Regions from separate parts of the Homo sapiens genome. Here region 1 is linked to region 2. A link means that fine-mapping ties the variant in region 2 to the expression of a gene that starts in the linked region. Tissue or cell type: whole blood. Region 2 holds a variant in brackets; the other region holds the start of a gene. All regions are shown on one strand. Distances are between the middles of the regions.

Region 1 (8,483 bases), 36 kb before region 2:
AGCTGTGGTGCCTGCCCGTCAGAGGTCTTTGCAAGTGTAGCAGGACCGTCTTCCGCCATGACACACATTGATTATGTATGTACTTGCTCATGGGAGAAAACTGGTGAGTTTGGAATGGTTTAAGGAAGAGCTAAACTCACAAGCACATCCCAGCCTCAGTTCTCCGTGCAGCCTCAGAGGTGCTGCAGGCCCCGGGAGACAGCCCTGTGGATGGAGGGAGGAGCCGAGGGGAGCCTGGGGTCATTGCCGGGTTCAGCCTGGAGGACTGACCTGAGGCCAGCCCACCTCAGAGAAGCCCCTCGTGTGGACTTGGCCAGGGGCCAGGGGTTGCTATTGGGGTCCTCTGTGGGTCCTGCCCTCTCGGTCCTTGGAGGGCAGAGACAGGGGCTGTGCTGTGAGGGATCAGGGCCAGCCCCCCAAGGCCTCCTCTAGCTGGCGTGGCCGAGGGTGCCCGTGAGTGGGTACAAGGGCCACCTCTCCCCATCCCTGGCCATGTCTGAGGTCTGGTTCTGCACAGCACAGGTGTCCACACCCACCCTCAGCGGAAGCCCACCTGGGGCCACATGTCCCCAGCAGTGTGTGGTAGTTCCCTCAGGCCTTGAGGCCAGTGCTGAGACCCTCCAGGAACCCAGCACCTCGCGTCCTGCCACATGGGCCCTCTTCAGGGTGCTGCCCCATCTCCCTGCCGGGCCCAGCACAGGGCACAGCACGACTGCCCTCCCTGGCAGCCACACCTCCTCCTCTGACCATAAGTGCTCATCTCTCTTCTTGCATGTCTCAGTCGACCTTGAAACAGCCTGAGAGTGGGGGAGTTGCCTCCTTTACACGTTCCTGGAGTCAGGGTCGGGCTGAGGGGTCAGGGACTGAGGGGGTCAGGGGCTGAGGGGGTGTCCACGCAGCCAGGCTGAGGTGTGGGCCCACCTGCCCGGCTGGCAGCCCCAACCCCGGCCCGTCCCTGTACGGCTGGGTACAGGAAGAGCTCTGTGAGCTCCAGTCCAATGCGGGGCCCTCAGCCTGTCCTGCAGGGAGGTTTGGAGGAAGCCAGGCTTTTAGGCAGAGGCCGGTGGTGTGACCCCCGTGAGAAGTGTGTCAACCCAGGGGGCCTCTGGTGGGGGTGCTTGGACACACAGTGTAGACGCTGAGACTGGCCCACCTAGGGGCTGGGTTTGCGGGGGAGGGGCACTGCCGCCCTCGTGCCAGCATCCCCTTGGGACAGGGCTGCCTTGGTGCCACCTGCAGTTCTGCTGTGTGGCTCTGATAGGAGCTGGGGCTCAAGGTCTGAGCACTCCTGTCTGCGCACCTCCCCCACCAGGAGTCTCTGCCTGTGCAGACACTCGGAGGGCCCGGGAGGCTGTGCCCCCCCAACCCCAACCGGGCCCTGCTCACCCCCGCACCCCCCCCACCCACCAGGCCCTGCTCACCCCCTGGCCCCCCTCCCAACCTCCACCGGGCCCTGCTCACCCCCTGCCCCGCCCCCCCCACCTCCACCAGGCCCTGCTCACCCCCTGCCCCCTCTTCCAACCTCCACCTGGCCCTGCTCACCACCTGCCCCCCCCACCTCCACCAGGCCCTGCTCACCCCCTGCCCCGCCCCCCAACCCACCAGGCCCTGCTCACCCCCTGCCCTGCCTCTGCAGGTCCACAGCAAGGACAAGAAGTATGTGTGCAAGGTGTGCAGCCGCGTCTTCATGTCCGCCGCCAGCGTGGGCATCAGGCATGGCTCCAGGCGCCACGGTGTGTGCACCGACTGTGCTGGCCGCGGCATGGCCGGGCCCCTGGACCATGGCGGCGGAGGCGGCGAGGGCTCTCCAGAGGCGCTGTTCCCAGGCGACGGGCCCTATCTGGAGGACCCTGAGGACCCACGAGGGGAGGCGGAGGAGCTGGGCGAGGACGACGAGGGCCTGGCCCCTGAGGATGCGCTGTTGGCGGACGACAAGGATGAGGAAGACTCGCCGCGGCCGCGCAGCCCCCCAGGAGGCCCTGACAAGGACTTCGCCTGGCTCTCCTAGGCCCGCCCGCCGGCAGGGTCGGTGGCTGCCTCGCTCCGTCCACCCGTGTGTGTGTCCGGTGGGTCTCCACTGCGGGGCCAGGGCCACGCTCACCCCTCTCGCGGCCCCTCCTCTGCTTCCCCCTGAACCCACCCCCCACGGAAACCAGCCCTGCGGGCTAAGCAGGTGCGACCCCAGCAAGAGGGGTGCTCTGGGACCAGACATGAAGTGAGTTGGGGGAGGGCACAGGGTGGGTTTGAGTGAAGGGAGAGCACGGTCCTAAGTCCCCAGCAGGTGGTGCGGGTGTGTGAGTGGCCCCTGTGATGGCCAGCCTGGCTTGGACACGTGATGGGCCTGTGGCCGGGTCCAGTGGGCACTGGGCGGGGTGGTGTGTTCGGCCCAGAGGCCCCTGGCCTGAGCAGGTGCAGAGTTTTACAGACACCCGGTCAGCCCGGCTGGAGCCCGCCCTCCCCTCCCCTAGCAGCCAGGTCACTGCCTGTGGCTGCAGCCGTGGCCCGTGGTGCAGCCGTGGCCCATGGCAGCCTGTAGAATCCAGGTGCACAGAGAGCCCTGCCACCGTCTTACCTCTGGGCTTTGGTGCTTAACACACAACACAGCTGCAGACCCTGCTGGAGGCCGAGGGCTCCAGGTGCTATCTTAGGTGGACACAGCCCTGGGGGCTCCTTCCAGGAGGGGACCCTCAGCCCTGTGCCCCCCACCACTTCAGGCCACACCAGGTTCCCTCTGCAAGGGCCTCGGCTCAGTCGTGTGCACTTCCTCGGAGAGCCTTGGGCTGCCACGTCCACCCCGGGCTCTGCCCGTCCTGTTCTGCCCATGGCCCAGCCCGGCCGCTCCTGCTGACCCCTCCTGGACGGGCTGGAGCTGGGCTCCTGCCTTTGCTGCTAACACTGGAGGCGGTGTTCCTAACTGCAGTGTGCTGCTTACACCTCCCCGCGTGGGTAACCAAATTTTTAAGTAGTCAGAGACATATCGAGGTAGTTACATAAAATTATTTTGTTTGGCATTATTTTTCTCACTCGAAGAAACTATATAGGGTTGTTTTTCCTTTAGCTTGTGCTCAAGTCCTCTTGCTGTGTTTTCAGAAGCACTCACATGTTCTTTCTTTTCCTGAGTGAAAAGCAAAGGTCCCACGGTGTGTGCTGTGGTGCACCGCCTGGCTTTGGGGGTCCCGGAGGCAGGCTGCCTAGACTCACAGCCTCGGGACCGTTGCCACGGCCTGTCTTCTCGTTCAGGCCTGCCTCTGACAGCACTCACCATGAGGACATTCCATCCTTCACCCCCTCCTCTGGCACAGGCCACCACTGCGGTGCTGTGCCTTCAGATGGGAGGTGGGCGCGGTGGCCTCCTCCTTCCCTCCAGGACCTGCCCGTGTGAAGACCCCCCGGAGTGCTGAGCTTCAGGGCTGCGTGGAAAGAGTTTTTACTCTCTTTTTCTAGCCTGTATACCAGGCTTTTCCCCACATTGTCAGGTAGAGCACCAGCTTCCCTGACCGCTGCTGCTCGGGGAGGGCTGGGGCTGGCCGGGGGTCCTGTGGAGGAGTACATGGAGGACTCCAGGTACAGCGCAGGAGTCACGGCTTTTGTTTTTTGACATTGGCCCCCGGTTCTACCAATGACAGGGTGCCCTGGCTGGAGCTGTCATCACACACACCCCTCAGCTCGGAGGCTGTGGGCTCCTCAAAGCTGGAGAAAGAGGCCAAGATTTTTCTGCACACGGAGTGTGGGGATAGGAGCCGGGCCAAGCGCTGGCCCCTCAGCGGTGAGCCCTGCCCACTCTTACCGAGCAAGGTGGGTGGCTCTGGCACGAGTCCCCCAGGGGGAGAGCATGGCTACCAGGGAGCTGCAGCGGAGCCCTCCAGCCCTCACCCCAGGCCAGCCCCACCCCGGCCTCTTTGAGAATTCTCAGAACTTTGTACCTTTCCCCTGATTTTTAAACCCTTTTTCTAAACAGACTGACTTTCTTACAAAATGCATTTGGAAACCAGACCTTTGCTACCCACCAATGTCTCTGGGTTTTGTACCAGTCCCTGCTCTCAGGCCACCCTGCCCAGGACCCAGGCCCGCCTCCCCCTCCACACTCAGGATGTCCTGCTCCATCTGGCCGGCTCACTCCGTGTGGCCTGCCTTTGCTGACCGTTTTGGGGTTCCCCGCCGGAGCTACAGGGGCATTTTCTTCCCTAAAACCAACAGTGTCCCACTGACCTCCCCAAGTGTTTGCTGCGTGGCAGATTTCCTGTTCTTGTTCGCAGTTTGCCGACTGAAGAGTGTGGGATTTCCGAGGCCCAGGTGAGCACGTCCATCTCAGGAGGCGTGGAGGGAAAAGACATGTCATGAAGGGTTTTTTTTATGTGACTGATTTTTTTTTAAATCGATGTTCAAACTAATAAATATTTTTTTATGAAGAGGAAAAATGTGTAGATTACATTTCACATTTTGTATTTTTGTTTGTGTCTGTTTGTATTTTGGTGTTTACAACACCAAAGTGGGAAATACAGTCCATTGGGGATGGTGTTATTTGGGGGCGGGGAGGGGGCAGGGACACCACGATTTTTCTGTCAAGCTCTGGATCCTGACCAGGTTGTACACTGGGGCTCTCTGAGCTTTGGGACACAGGACACTGCCAGGGCTACGTAGGGAACTGACTCAGAAGACGCAGCTTACTGCTTCCAACTTTGCACATCTTCCTCTTTAAAAAACTGAGAAAATGCAAAAACTGGAACTTTTTGCAATATTATAAAAGAAGTAATCTTATTTTAGCTCATTCTGTGACATGTGCGACTCTTAAGAAAGCCATACTTAATGGTGGTGGTTTTTTTTAGATCTTATATTGTGTTTTGTATGCAGCCCTTTTAGAACTACTTGTAGTGAGGGTGCTGTGTGTGCTTTTCTTAAATATTTATTTTTTTCAACATGCTTTCAACCTGTCAACAAAAACAAAACACACAAAAAAAGGGCAGTGTTTGAAGATTGTTGATTTTTTTCTGGGGATAATCTATATTATATTGACTTCCTATTACTTATTATAAACCTGTGTTTGTATTGGAGATGTGTCTACTATTGGGGGAAGAGGTTCTCGTAATCGCTCGGTGGGAAATCATGGCTCTGCCGTCCTGCCTCTCTGTGGCCGTGGGTTCACGTGGCCTCTGCGGTGAGTCTCCAAGTTTCTGCCTAGGCGCCTGTGCGTTTCCTTTCTGTGACGGGATTAGCTTAGACATCCTTGCAAAGCGATCACTTTCAATAAATTGGGAAATTGCTGCTCCAGCAGATGCCTCCTGCGTCTCAGATGATCCTTCCTCCGGCCTCGCCTGGGGTGGCGGCGGCCGACGGGTGACCCTCGGCCCTCTGTGGGCAGCTGCCAGACTCCACCCACTTGCCCACCACAGGGTCCCAGCCCCACGGCCTTCCTCCCGAGAGGCAGACAAAGCTTCTGGAAAAACCTCAAATCTTTAATTTCTCTCTTCGCCTGGTGCAGCCCAGACGTGAGACACCTGAGCTTCAAAAACAAACATGGTAAAAACAGCCCCAGGGCCCGAGAGCCGTTGAGTTAAGTGCGAGTGGGGGAGTCCCCTCTCCAACACCCCTCAAAGTGCATCGGGACTGGCCCCCCAAAGCTGGGCCCATAACACCCTTGATAAATCTACGGGCCGACAGGCGGGAGGGTGGCTGCCCCCAGGGCCCTTGGGGCTAAGGGGACAGCGGTGTGGTTTGGCTTTAGTGCAAAAAGCTGGTTTCTTTAGAGGCACTTTGAGTGGTGGGACCCCTCCCCGACCTGGCGGGGGGGAGGGTTCAGGGTCAGCCCCGCCCCCCCACCCCAAGTAAAAGCAGACCCTGCAGCTGGTGAAAGCCAGCCCCTGGGGCTGTCCTCGGGCTGTTTCAGCCCCGGGCCTGGAGGGGGTGGGGAGGGAGAAGGTGGTAGCTTATGTTCTTGAACGAGCCGGACTTAGTCCAGGAACCGCTGGCAGGCTTTCTTCCAGCGGCAGGCTGTGCACCAGAGGTCCCGGCGCTCCATGCCATACACCTTCCGGCACTTCTTCGCGTCGCCGCGGGGCTTCCTGTGCGGGGGGTCACAGGACATGGGGTGCTGTGAGACCAGGACCCTCCCCACCTGGTGCCAGCCGCAGGCCCTCAGCCCACACGCACCTCAGGGTGACTCCGATCCTGGAGGACAAGGCGGGTGGGCAGGCTCCGACCTCCGTGGGCTGCGGCTCCAGGCGGGCGGGCGTCAGGCAGCCCTACAGGGAGACACAGCCAGGGCTTCACTCCCCTCCAGAGAGCCCTGAGACCCGCCCCAGCTGCCACCCGTGGCCTCACCCACCTGGTAGACACGGTCACTGTGACAGGACTGGGGGTTAGCAACGGTGCTCAGGACAGGGGGCGGGGGCAGGGGCGGGGCAGGCGGCCGCAGGGGACTAGGCAGGGCTGGGGGCTCCAGCAGCTCTGGCAGCTCCAGGCGGGGGAAGGCAGGCGGCATGGAGGCCGTGGGGGACACTGGAGTCAGGCTGGACAGCCCGTCGGTCAGCGTGTCCACACCAACATCCAGCTCTGTGTAGTAGAAGTCCTCCTCACCATCACTCTGCTCAGGCTCTGCCTGCCTCCTGCGGGAGACACAGCCAGCCAGTGGGAGCTGAAGGGGTGGCCTGGCCGGGCCTCACAACCCCAGCCAACCCGCAGGCCCCGCCGCACCCCAGGCCCCGCCGCACCCCAGGTGCACCAGGCGGATGTGTCTCTGCATCGCCGACGCCGTGCTCAGCACCTTCCCGCAGCTCTTCCACAGACACTGGAACATGACCTGGGCCGGGCTCTGCAGCAACAGGGGCCAGGGTCAGGCTCAGCCGCCACACCCGCCCCTCCCTGGGGGCCGCCCCCAAGCTCACCTTCCTTTTTCTCAGGGTGGGCTCCCCAAACAGAAAGTGGGCTGCCTCGGGGGGCAGTGGGGGTGACGGGGTGGACGGAGAGGACTGGTCACTGGCCAGGTCCCATCCCCAGTCTCCACTGTTGCTGCTGCTGCTGTAGCTGCCTGGGGGCCGCACCAGGGCCTCCTTCCAGGGCTCCAGGCCAGGCTCTGTGGGGACACGGGCCCCCCGCCTTAGAACTTCGGGTGGGTCCAGGGAGTCCCTAATCCTGAGCTGCCCCTGTTCACCAAGTCCGGTGAGACTGGTGGGCAGAGCGTCTTGGAGGAGCTGGCCCCAGGGCTTGGGGAGAAACCCCCCCGGCACAGGAAAGGGTTGGCAGACGTGTGTGGCCAGCCGCGTGGAGGTGAGCAGGTCAGGGAGGCCAGAAGGCCTGGGTCCTGCCGCTTTGGCCTCAGTAGGGGGCACTGAGGGTGCGGGAGTCCATTTTAGAAAGGAGTCCCAGGTTTGAGGGCTCTGCTTGCCCCACAGAGGCTGGGTGGCTGTAGGTTCTGAGCCCTGTCCCCACCCACACCCCTAAATGCAGACATCTGAGTCTTACCTGGGCTGAAGGCTGCAACCGGGGCCCCCAGAAGGAGAGGGCTGGTGGACAGGCTTGTAAGGGCAGCGGCAGCCATGACCTCGTCCAGCCGGGCTTTTCCTGGGGTGGCTCTGGAGGAGATGGGGGCGGGGTGCGGGTGACCCAGCCAGAGCTCTGGGCCCCTCCCCTGGTCGGTCCACGTGCAGGCCTGGGCACGCGTGCACACCAGGCTCCCCACTCCCAGCCCTGGGCATGAGGCCTGGCTCCTCCCCCAGCTCAGGTTGCAGAGAGAGCTGAAAGCCACCCGGAGCCGCCAGGAGCAGGGCCAGGGTCTCCTGAAGCCTGAGTTCTCCACATCGCGGGCTTGGCTCCACTGTGGTTCCTTCAGATACTGGGGCTGGGCAGGGGTCTGAAGCCCTGGCAGAGGGGCGGGCCAGGCCCAGGCCTCCCCCCATCACACATTAACCAGGGTTGTGCAACAGCAGCTGTGGGCCTCACGCCAGGCCTGGGAGGTGGGAGTGGCCAGCAGCCGGCAGCAGCCAGGGGGAGACTGGGCTGGAAGCACGGGCAGCTCCCCAGGCCCCAGCGAGCCAGGCCAGGGCCCGCCCCTGCCCTGGCAGCCAGACCGAGGTGTCCGGCCTGGCAGGGGTTGGGAGGTGGCGGTCAGGAGCCCCAGGGATTCCTGGACAGTCGCCCCATGCCGACCGCGCAGCCTCTTCTGCACAGAGACGCACAGCCACCCGCTCCGGGTTCTGAGCTCTAGCCCCGAGGAACTGCGGTGGAGGGAGGTGTAGGGACTCCCAGTCATCGATCATTTCTGCTCAGCTCCTCCAGGGCTGAAGAGCTTGGGGGTGGCTGGTAATTACAAACCTGGGGCCCTGACCTGGCCTCCGTCGGGGCCGGTGTCTCCGCACCCCACCCACCGCCCCTGCGCACACCGAGTCCCGAGGCACCGGGCCTCCCGCTCACCTCTGCGCTGGGACGGGGATGTGCGCCGACGGAGTCCGGGGCCCCGCCGCCGCCCCCGTCCACGTCCGGGGGGCCCC
Region 2 (10,514 bases):
GAGGCAGGCAGATCACCTGAGGTCAAGAGTTCGAGACCATCCTGGCTACATGGTGAAACCCCATCTCTACTAAAAATACAAAAAATTAGCTGGGCGTGGTGGCAGGCACCTGTATTCCCAGCGACTCAGGAGGCTGAGGCAGAAGAATGGTGTGAACCCGGGAGGTGGAGCTTGCAGTGAGCCAAGATTGGGCCACTTCACTCCAGCCTGGGCAACAGAGCAAGACTCCATCTCAAAAAAAAAAATTAGCTGGGTGTGGTGGCAGGCACCTGTGATCCCAGCTACTTGGGAGGCTGAGCAGAAGAATTGCTTGAACCCGGGAGGCAGAGGTTGCAGTGAGCCAAGATTGTGCCATTGCACTCCAGCCTGGGTGACAGAGCAAGACTCTGTCTCAAAAAAAAAAGGAAAAGAAAAACAATTCCTTAGAGAAGCATCAAAAATAATACTTATTTAACCAAGAATGTGCAAGACTTGAACAGTACAAAATACTGTTGAAAGAAATTAAAGACGTAAATAAATGGACAGATCCTTCATTCATGAATTGGAAGACTTAATACTGTTTTTTTCTTCTGTTATTGTTGTTGTTTAAGATGGAGTCTCCCTCTGTTACCCAGGCTGGAGTGCAGTGGCATGATCTCAGCTCACTGCAACCTCCTCCTCCCAGGTTCAAGCGATTCTCCTGCCTCACCCTCTCGTGTAGCTGGGATTACAGGTGTGCACCACCTCCGACTAATTTGTTTTTTATTTTTAGTAGAGACGGGGTTTCACCACGTTGGCCAGGCTGGTCTTGAACTCCTGACCTCAAGTGATATGCCCGCCTCAGCCTCCCAAAGTACTGGGATTACAGGCGTCAGCCACCACACCCAGCCAGAAGGCTTAATATTGTAAAGATGACAATGTGCCCCAAACAGATCTACACATTCTATGCAATCCATATCAAAATTCAAACTGTCTTTTATGCAGAATTGGACAAGCCGATCCTAAAATTCATATGAAATTGCAAAGGATCCAGAAACAAAACAAACTTGAAAAAGAGGAGCAAATGGTGAATAACTACCACTTCCTGAGTTTAAAACTTATCACAAAGCTATAATAATCAGAACAGTGTGGTACTGGCACATATACACCAATGGAACAGGAGAGAGAGCTCAGAAATAAACCCTTACATATATTGCCAATTGATTTTGGACAAAAGTGCCAAGACCATTCAGTGGAGAAAAAGCAGTCTTTTAAACAAATGGTGCTGGGAAAACTGGAAATCCACATGCAAAAGAATAAAGTGGACCCTCACCTAATAACATATACAAAAATTAACTCAAAATGGATCAAAGACCTAAATTTAACAGCTAAAACTACAGAACTCTTAGAAGAAAACATAGGTGAAAATCCTCATAACTATGGATGAGGTGGTTTCTTAAACCTGATGACAAAAACATAGGCAATAAAGAAACAATAAATTGCACTGCATCAAAATTTAAAATGTTTGTGCATCAAAGGACACTATATCAAGTGAAAAGACAACCCAAACAATGGGAGCAAATATCTGCAAACTATATACTTCATAAGGGATGATATCCAGAATATATAAAGAAATCCTGGGCCGGGTGTGGTGGCTCATGCCTGTAATCCCAGCACTTTGGGAAACCAAGGCGGGATCACCTGAGGTCAAGAGTTCGAGACCAGCCTGGCCAACATGGTGAAACCCTGCCTCTACTAAAAATATAAAAATTAGCTGGGCACCACGTGGTGACAGGCGCCTGTAATCCCAGCTACTTGGGAGGCTGAGGCAGGAGAATCCCTTGAACCCAGGAGGTGGAGGTCATGCCATTGTACTCTAGCCTGGGCAACAACAGTGAAACTCCATCTTAAAAAAAAAAAAAAGGTCCAACGCAAATCCAAGAGAACTTATCAGTCCTGAATGGTGGCAAGGTGGACGTCTGTAAGATGCTCCGGAAGCTTTCAGATCAGGCCTGATGCCGACATGGCAAGCAGCACTGGGTGGAGCAGGGGACGGAACGAGGGCTGGGGGCAACCGGAGCCCTCTGAGCCTTGAAGCCCTGGACCACTCAGTTCTTCTACTCCTGTTTCCTCCTCTGTCAGATGGTGTGACTGCAGGGCCTACCTACAGGGCTGTTGCACAGATGAATGAAAGTATATGAAACCCTTGGAGCAGTGCCTGGCCCAGAGGGAGCACCACAGGGATGTGTCAGATCTCTCATCAAAGGGATCAGGAATTCGAGACCTGGGTAATATGGTGAAATCCCGTCTCTACAAAAAATACAAAAATTAGCTGGGCGTGGCAGTGCACACTTGTAGTATCAGCTATTAGGGAGGCTGAGGTGGGAGGATGGCTTGGGCCAGGGAGGCGGAGATTGCAGTGAGCCGAGATTGTGCCACTGCACTCCAGCCTGGGTGACAGAGCAGCAAGACGCTGTTTCAAAAAAAAAAAAAAAAGGAAGACATTCAAAGAACTAGAACTAGAACTAGGGATGGTTACACGGTCAGCCTGAACTATTGGCTAAAAAAGAAAATTACCTACTAGAAGGCTTGGTAAATATTTCTTCTAAGAGAAAAGTAAAAAGGAGGAAAAATAAAGCTATGCGCTTAGGGAAATAGAGACATTACAGTAATAATTGTTCATATTTGAATATGGAAGAGGTATTACCATTAAATGTGTTACCTATTATGACACAGAAGTTACTCTTTTTTGTCCTCACATCGGACTTGGACTTCCAAAAAGTTACTTTTTAAGTAATTTCCTAATCAGTTAGATTAGAGATGCAACTATGAAGTATTCATAATTGGAAAAAACCAGTAACTTCTGGAATTTGCTTTAAAATGGCCCAGGAAAGAAAAAAATAGGGCAGGGAGAACAGACAAAATGAGACTGGGAAAATATTAATAAATGACGACATTGGATGATGGACCGTGGGCGGTGATTATGCTAAACTCTCTAATTTGGGGTATGTTTGAAAATCTCCATGAAAGTAAAATTTAAAAGTTGAACTCTAGAGAATAAAACTAACAACAGGGCCAGGCGCAGTGGCTCACGCCTGTGATCCCAGCACTTTGGGAGGCCAAGGTGGGTGGATCACGAGGTCAGGAGTTCAAGACCAGCCTGGCCAAGATGGTGAATCTCCGACTCTACTAAAAATACAAAAAATTAGCCCAGTGTGGTGGCGGGCGCCTGTAATGCCAGCTACTCTGGACGCTGAGGTAGAGAATTACTTCAACCCGGGAGACAGAGGTTGCGGTAAGCTGAGATTGCGCCACTACACTCCAGCCTGGGTGAGGAGAGTGAAACTCTGTCTCCAAAAAAAAAAGGCCAGGCGCGGTGGCTCACGCTTGTCATCCCAGCACTTTGGGAGGCCAAGGTGGGCGGATCACGAGGTCAGGAGATTGAGACCATCCTGGCTAACATGGTGAAACCCCGTCTCTACTAAAAATACAGAAAATTAGCCAGACATGGTGGCGGGCGCCTGTAGTCCCAGCTACTCGGGAGGCTGAGGCAGGAGAATGGCGTGAACCCGGGAGGCGGAGCTTGCAGTGAGCCGAGATCACGCCACTGCACTCCAGCCTGGGCAACAGAACAAGACTCCATCTCAAAAAAAAGATAAAAAATTATAGTAATATAAAAATTAGCTGGGTGTAGTAGCGTGAGTCTGTAGCCCAGCTCCTAGGGGGGCTGAGGCAGGAGGATCGGTTGAGCCCAGGAGGTCCAGGCTGCAGTGAGCCAGGACTATGCCACTGCACTCCAGCCTGGTTGACAAAGTAAGACCCTGTCTCAAAAAAAATTAAAACAACCACCAAAAAAAAACTGACGATAGGCTGGAGACCTACTCTCTTCCACATAAGCCTTGCACTGCTGCTCGGGCTGCAGTACAGTGGCTGCATCTCCACTCACTGCAAACTCGGCCTCCTGGGTTCAACCAATTCTCCTGCCTCAGCCTCCTGAGTAGCCAGGACCACAGGTGCGCGCCACCACGACCGGTTCATTTTTGTGTTTTTAAGGAGATGGGGTTTCACCATGTTGACCAGCGTGGTCTTGAACTCCTGACCTCAGGTGATCTGCCCGCCTCGGCTTCCTAAAGTGCTGGGATTACAGGCGTGAGCCACCGCGCCTGGCCTCCTTCCATGCTTCTTGATTCACCCCAGAAGGAAGACGTAGACGCCTGAACACAGACACAGCTGTCAAAGCACGCCTGCCCCAGGAAGCTGAGACAAAACTGCAAAGCAAAGGGAGGGCCGATCCTGACCCGACCCTGTGTGCGTGCCCCTTACGCCCCTAAGGTTGGCATCTGACAACAAAGGGCTTTACCTGCAGTTCTCCTTAAAGCGGCACTTTCCCTCCAGGAAGAACGGGCACGGCTTCAGAGACTTGTGAGTGGGGTACAGGTAAAGCACACGGACACCCGCCGAGCCATCCTCCGCCTCTTCCGTTCCCACCACCATGGCGTTGTGATACTCCAGAGTGCCCCAGGAGCTGTAGTAGGGCGCGCTCACCTTTGTCCCACTCAGCTCTTCCTCGTCCTCTCCCTCTTCCTCCTCCTGCCCACCTGCCGCAGATTCTGGCCCCGCCTCTGCTTTAGGAACGGTCTCTGATCCGGACCCACGGGCCGCTGCTGGTGCCTCCACCGCCTCAGTGATGGCCTCCCGGAAAGCCTGGTACTCAGCATCTTCCTGGCGGCCCGGGCGCTCTTCGTCCAGCGCGGCCAACAAGCTGCTCTTCCTGACAGACACCAGGCTGGCCTCGGTGAGCTCGATGAGCTCCTTCAGGTCCCCCTGCAGCTGGCGCAGGTCAGCCTGCTCAGACGAATCCAGGCCGGCGCCCAAGGCCAGCTCCACCTGCTGCAGCTGCGCACGGTAGGTCTGCAAGGCCGACTCCAGGCTCTCCTCGTCCATGCTGAGAGAGGGAGGCGCTGGACCAGGGCTGCAAGAAGAGAAGCCAGCTGAGCCCCGCGTCTCGGGACCGACCCCACAGCCTGAGGGCGGGCACGGGCACG[GGCACGT/T]CCCCTTTCCCTCGGGGAGACACCGGCTCAGAGGCACAGCTCCCAGCGCAGAGGTCGCAGCCCGGGTACCCCCGCTCAGGCTCCGCGCTTCCCTTCCGAGCCGCCGTGGGCTCGCCGCTAGCCGGGTCCCGCGTCACTCCGGAGCCCCTTCCCCGCGGGGCGCCCCGCCGCCTCACCCTCCGCCGAGCCCACCCGCCGCGCCCGCCGCCTTCCAGGCCGGCCGCGCCCCCCCGCCCGGCGTCTCTTCTGTCTGGCCAGGGCCGCGTCCCCGCAAACCGCGGCCACCTGGTCCCCGGCCGGGCACCTCCTCCGCGCGGTTTCCCAGCCGCAGCCACAGAGAGCCCGCCGGCCTCACCGGCTAGAGCGGCCCGGCGCCCCCTTTTCGCCCCAGCAGCCGATCGGCACTTCCTCCCGAGCGCCGCCGCTTCCGGAAGTGCTTGGCGCGCGGGGGCAGCCGGGAAGCGGAGCGCGGAGGCCGCTGGGACGCGGTTCAGCTCATTCCCTGAGGCCGGCCCGCGTCCCGTCAGGCGCCGCGCGGGGTTAGCGCGGGGTCAGCGGAGGTCAGCGGGGGTCAGCAGCAGCGGCTCCGAGGGCGCGGCGGACGCAGGTAGGCCGCAGGCTGTGCGGTGAGGCGCGAGGCCCGAGGGGCGGCCCAGGACTCGAGGTGGGACGCGGGTGTGACAGGAGCCAGCTTTGGCTGCTTGTCGGGGAGCCTCAGACCTGGCGGCGGCGGCTTGGGGCGGACGTAGCCGGGGGCCGCGACCCAGGTTCTTCCTTCGCAGTCGTTCCCTGCCAGCCGCGCGCCGCCTCCAGGTGCACTCCAGGAGCAGCCGCGCCGCTGCTCACCCGCCCTGTAGTCCGCTCCCCCCAGGGCCGTCCCCGTTTTAAGAAATGGGGTGATGGGGCGTCCCTACCCGGCGCCTGCAGGGGCTCCTGGGGAGCGCGCCGGTGGCTCGCTGCTCCCGGGTGGGGCGCGGGGCTGGCGCTCGAGGGTGCCGTGGCCCAGGCGGGGCTGCAGCGAGTGTGTTCCCCGTTCCGCGCGCGTGAAGCGTGGGAGCGAAGCCTCGGGGGAGGGCGGGAGCGCGGCTGAGCTCACTGTGAACACCCGGCTGGGTAGTCCCGCGAGCAGGGGAGGGGCCGGAACCGATGTGTATGCGGAGAGGTCGCAGTCATTGCTGTGAGCAGGACACAGTGGCGGCTGACCTGGGAGAAGTTACAGAGGGACGGGGTGGGAGAGGGACGAGGAGTCGGGAATGGCCCCCAGGCTCTCGTCCTGAGCGGTCGGCTGGACGTGGGGCGCCACTGACCACCGTGGAGAAGCCCGGGGGAGGGGAGGTGCTTTCTGGCTGCACACTGACCTATGTTGGGGTGCCCAGGGCAGGATGTACACGCTGCTGTCGGGCTTGTACAAGTACATGTTTCAGAAGGACGAGTACTGCATCCTGATCCTGGGCCTGGACAATGCTGGGAAGACGGTGAGTGCCCACGCCCTTGCGCGCACCTTTCCCACGGCCTGGCGGCGCCCCCTTCGGTTTTGTGCTGTCAGCTGCACGTTCACTACCCAGACGGAAGCCAAATTTCACCTGAGACGGCAGGATAGTCACCACCAGCCTCCTGAAGAGCAGAGTGTTGCTCTGTTTCTGTTTCTGTCTTTTAAAGAACAGACCTGAGTAAGGATATTTGGAAGCCAGTATAGCCCCTCCTTGATGTGTTTCGCCTCTGCCTCTCTCCTCAGACCTTCCTGGAGCAGTCGAAAACCCGATTTAACAAGAACTACAAGGGGATGAGTCTATCCAAAATCACCACCACCGTGGGCCTAAACAGTAAGGGTCTCAATAGCAGGCTGTGGGTTTGGGGCCTTGAGGATGCCGTGATATTCACAGTCCAGCTGGCCCGTGGCCACAGCCCTGTCGGGCCCCTCTCAAGTCTCATTTGAGTGGCACCAGCATGGTTTGCCCCATCCCCTGGGAGAGCTGGGACTGGGTGTGTCGAGGACCAAGGTCATGAGCCTTGCCTGTTTCCTCCTCTCCCCAGTCGGCACTGTGGATGTGGGAAAGGCTCGGCTCATGTTCTGGGACTTAGGAGGGCAGGAAGAGCTGCAGTCTTTGTGGGACAAGGTAAGACTCCCTGGCCAGGACCACCCCCACCCCAGCCCTCCAGTGCCACTTCTTTCCAGAGTGCCCTTTGGGCCCTTCCTCAGCAGTTTTCCTTACCCACTCTGTCCCTCGGGTTTTCTCTCTGGTCCTGTCCCAGGTTCCCGAGTGGCTCCCTGTTTTGTCCCAGCTGAACCCTTAGCTGAAGTTGCCCCAAAAGTGGTGGTAGGGGAGTTTCCCACTTGGGAGTTCCCTGCGATGGGGCCAGTGGAGAATTCCAGGGAAAGAATCACTAAATGCCAAGGCGATCAGATCAGAGCATGTATTAGGGGAACCTGTTGACAGAGTGCGGCATCCTCAGGTGACCAGTGAGAGAAGGGCGTGTTCACTGGTCATGCCTGAAGCCGGGGGGGATCTGGGTTCAGGGCTGGGGCTAGTTTCTTTCAATGTTTTGAAACCTGAACATTATGTTAACAACCTAAACATCTTACAAGTGTCTGGGAATGTTCAAACCCTGGCTTGGGTTTGAGCCTAAGGGCAACCTCGCTGGCCAAGTCAGAGAGGTCAGGGCAGTCTGTTTCTTTCTCAGTCAGGACAAGACAAAGTGTGGGGACCTGGGGACCCTGCACTCCTCCAAAGTGAGTGCCTCCTTTCGGCTCAGAGACCTTGCTGCTGACCACCACAGGACACAGAAATGGCAAAGACCAGATGTGGGGACGGCAGGATGGCTGCCTCTCCCCTGATGAGGTTCCTTCAGTTCTAGCTTAACATTTGTTCTTCCATGATCACCAGAAGACTCCTCAGGGTCTCACAGCGGCAGTCTCCTATTTTGACACAGGTTTTGGGCATTTCTGAGATCCCAGTGTGGTGCCCCTTCCCCACACCCCCAAGGCTGCAGTTTATCTCCTTCTCAGCCTGGGCCAGGCACTGAGTCCAGCACTGAGCAGGGCAGAGCCTGTGGCTTCCTCGGGCTCCCTGCCCTAGGCTGGCACAGTGGGTGTGGGGTGTCCCCAGTGCCTTGGCTGCCCTGATGCCATCTCTAGAGCTGAGTGCCCAGGTCCTGATCTCTTTTTTGATCCTAGTTCCCCTTTCCTAGGCGCCCCCAAAGTGTCCCCTCCTGCTGTGACTTCTAGCCAAGAAGACATTTCTCCCATGGCCAAGTGATCTCTGATAGATCCTGTAGGACCACTGAAGTCAGACAGGACAAGTTGAGTCAGGGCCTGTGTGTCCAGTGCGCAGCATGCTTGGGGAGTGACACAGATGATGATGATCTTGTCACAGGCCGGTGTCTCAGGCACAGATGCTGAGACAGGTCGAGGTACAGGATGCACACTGGGGGTCGGCACCAGGAAGGCAGGGAGGACGGGAGAGGAGAGGTCGACTCAGGCAGCAGGATCCACAGAGCTGTGGTTGGCCCAGCAGGGAGCCCTGGAGGAGAACTGGCTATGCTGTGCCATGTGGGGCCAGGCTGGCCGGGACTTCACACCATGGCCTGGTGGGTCCCCAGTGTGGGCTGCCCTGGGCAGGTGTGACCTGGCAGTGTGGCTCTTTGCAGCCAAAGTGGGTCCCACAGAAACCAAAATGAGACCATCTGCTGGTGCAGTGTTCTCCAACATGAAGCAAGAATACAGTGGGGCCAGAGATGCCTGCACTGGCCACAGCTGCAGCCCTATGTGGACCCACACTTCCACGTTGGAGAGGGGTTCCTCCAAGGTCCTGAGGGCCTCTCTTAAGGCGAAACTGGAAGAGGGAGACTTAAGGGGGCCACTGTAGCCCATCCTTGCTGCTGGTCTTGGGGCTGCACAGCCCTTCCTTGAGTGCCCTCCCAATTCACTACCACTTCTGCTGGGGTGCGACTTCCTGGCAGTCTGAGCCCTTCTCCAGACACCACCGTGGTGGGGCCAGTGGCTCCCTGGGTCCCCAGCTGTGGGACAGCTGTGGGATGGCAGCCCCATCTCCTGCCCACCAGGGTCTCCTAGACATGAGGTGCAAGTCATGCCCATGAGGCAGCTGTGGCTCGTCATTCAGCGTGTCTGCTGAGTATGTGCTGCTCTAGTGGCCGGGACCCCTGACCCTGCTGAGCTCAGAGCTGGGAGGATCAGCTGCAGGGACCCCCCTAGGTCACTGGGAGGGACCGGAAGGGAGGCCCCTGCTCCCACCCTGGTTTCCTGTATCCTGCATCCTTGTGCAGAGCCAGCACCACAGAAAGGGGCGTCATTGCGAATTGGCCTCGTCCTGGGGCTGGACCCTGGGTTGGTGTCCACATGTGTGGCATGTGCCAGGACCTCAGCTCCTGGGTTCTTTGCTGTAACACTAGTCTCTCAGGCTGGCTGGCACTTTGCAGTTGGGGAGCTCCCATTGCTGCTGGGGAGAAAAACTCAGACCCACAGTCCCTCTGACTGCTCCACTGGGGTCAGCTGGCCAGCCAGGAGCCACGCTTGGACACCTCCCTCTTCCCCCTCCTTGTGGGGCACCCCACAATGACCACTGCTGTGACGCCTCCACTGGGGCGTGGGGCTCTGGGTCCTGCCCGCACTCAGCCCTGAGGTGTCGCTCCCGTCCACTGCGGCCCTGCTGGGCTGTGCACCTTGTGCCTGGTAGGTGTGATGGGTGGCTCTGGCCACGTGGTCCCATGGTCCAGGACCCGGTTGCACATGAACCTTCTGCCACCCTGCTCAGAAGCCCCAGGAGCCACGTGGAGATTCTCTCACTGGGCTTGCTGCAGCCTCCACAGAGCCGCCCCTCCTGCCACAGAGGTCTCCACCTTAGGGTCCGCCTGCTCCCTTGTGTCAGCAGCAGACAGCCGGCACACTGCAGGGTCCCTTGAGGGGTTGGCGGCCTCTGTGTGGGACCTGTCTGTAGGCCAGAGAAGTTCCTGGGGGTGGGGGGGCCTCGCTACCTGCAGAACCCTGGAGGGCGCCTGGCCTTGGGCCTCCTCTCCACTGTGGGAAGTTCCTGGGGGTGGGGGGGCCTGGCCTTGGGCCTCCTCCTTTCCACTGTGGGAAGTGCAGGTGCACAGGCTTCTCTCCTCTGTGGGAAGTGCAGGTGCACAAGCTTGTCTGGCACTGGGATGGGGTTGTCTGGTACTCCCTGCTCAGACACCCTAAGGATTTCGGAGAGTTGGGCTGTGCCTCCTGGCTTCTCATGCTCTCGGGTGTGTGTGTCTTAACACACTGACCACCAGCTTGTCCTACCTGGTCAGCATCCAGTTCTAGGTCTCTGGGCACTCATGCCTGGACAGGAGAGCTGGCACAGCCTGGAGGCAAAGTGGCAAATGTGAGCTGTTGTCTGCTCCACGTGGACGCGGAGTTTGCTGTGTTTTTTTCTGATTGAGATAGAGGTGCACTCATCTGGTCCAGGGCTCAGCACTTGTACCTGAGGCTGCAGGGGCTGTGCCCTGTCTTGCCCAGGA

The links. PIP is the estimated chance that this variant, and not a neighbour inherited with it, causes the effect.
Region 1: it holds the start of ZBTB46-AS2, and the variant in region 2 is fine-mapped to the expression of ZBTB46-AS2 in whole blood (TOPMed, PIP above 0.99).

Annotation. Positions count from the first base shown.
Region 1 is chr20:63,740,455-63,748,937 of GRCh38, reverse strand. ZBTB46-AS2 (ZBTB46 antisense RNA 2) reads right to left here and starts at 5,113. Exons shown (of 3, transcript NR_186425.1): 1 at 4,210-5,113; 2 at 3,263-3,410; 3 at 2,987-3,115. It overlaps SLC2A4RG (SLC2A4 regulator), which reads right to left. Exons shown (of 8, transcript NM_020062.4): 2 at 8,407-8,483; 3 at 7,459-7,568; 4 at 6,882-7,069; 5 at 6,708-6,808; 6 at 6,323-6,602; 7 at 6,148-6,239; 8 at 4,888-6,059. The coding sequence ends at 5,948. ZBTB46 (zinc finger and BTB domain containing 46) reads left to right here. Exons shown (of 5, transcript NM_001369741.1): 5 at 1,637-5,268. The coding sequence ends at 2,008. RefSeq lists a silencer at 8,045-8,483.
Region 2 is chr20:63,702,969-63,713,482 of GRCh38, reverse strand. It overlaps ARFRP1 (ARF related protein 1), which reads left to right and starts at 5,507. Exons shown (of 8, transcript NM_001267547.3): 1 at 5,507-5,616; 2 at 6,386-6,484; 3 at 6,745-6,832; 4 at 7,044-7,126. The coding sequence starts at 6,392. ZGPAT (zinc finger CCCH-type and G-patch domain containing) reads right to left here and starts at 5,444. Exons shown (of 7, transcript NM_181485.3): 1 at 5,365-5,444; 2 at 4,319-4,930. The coding sequence starts at 4,902. RefSeq lists silencers at 5,172-5,331, 5,372-5,431, 5,852-6,091, 6,182-6,231 and enhancers at 4,559-5,519, 6,382-6,441. The variant GGCACGT/T (reference allele first, on the strand shown) is at 5,004.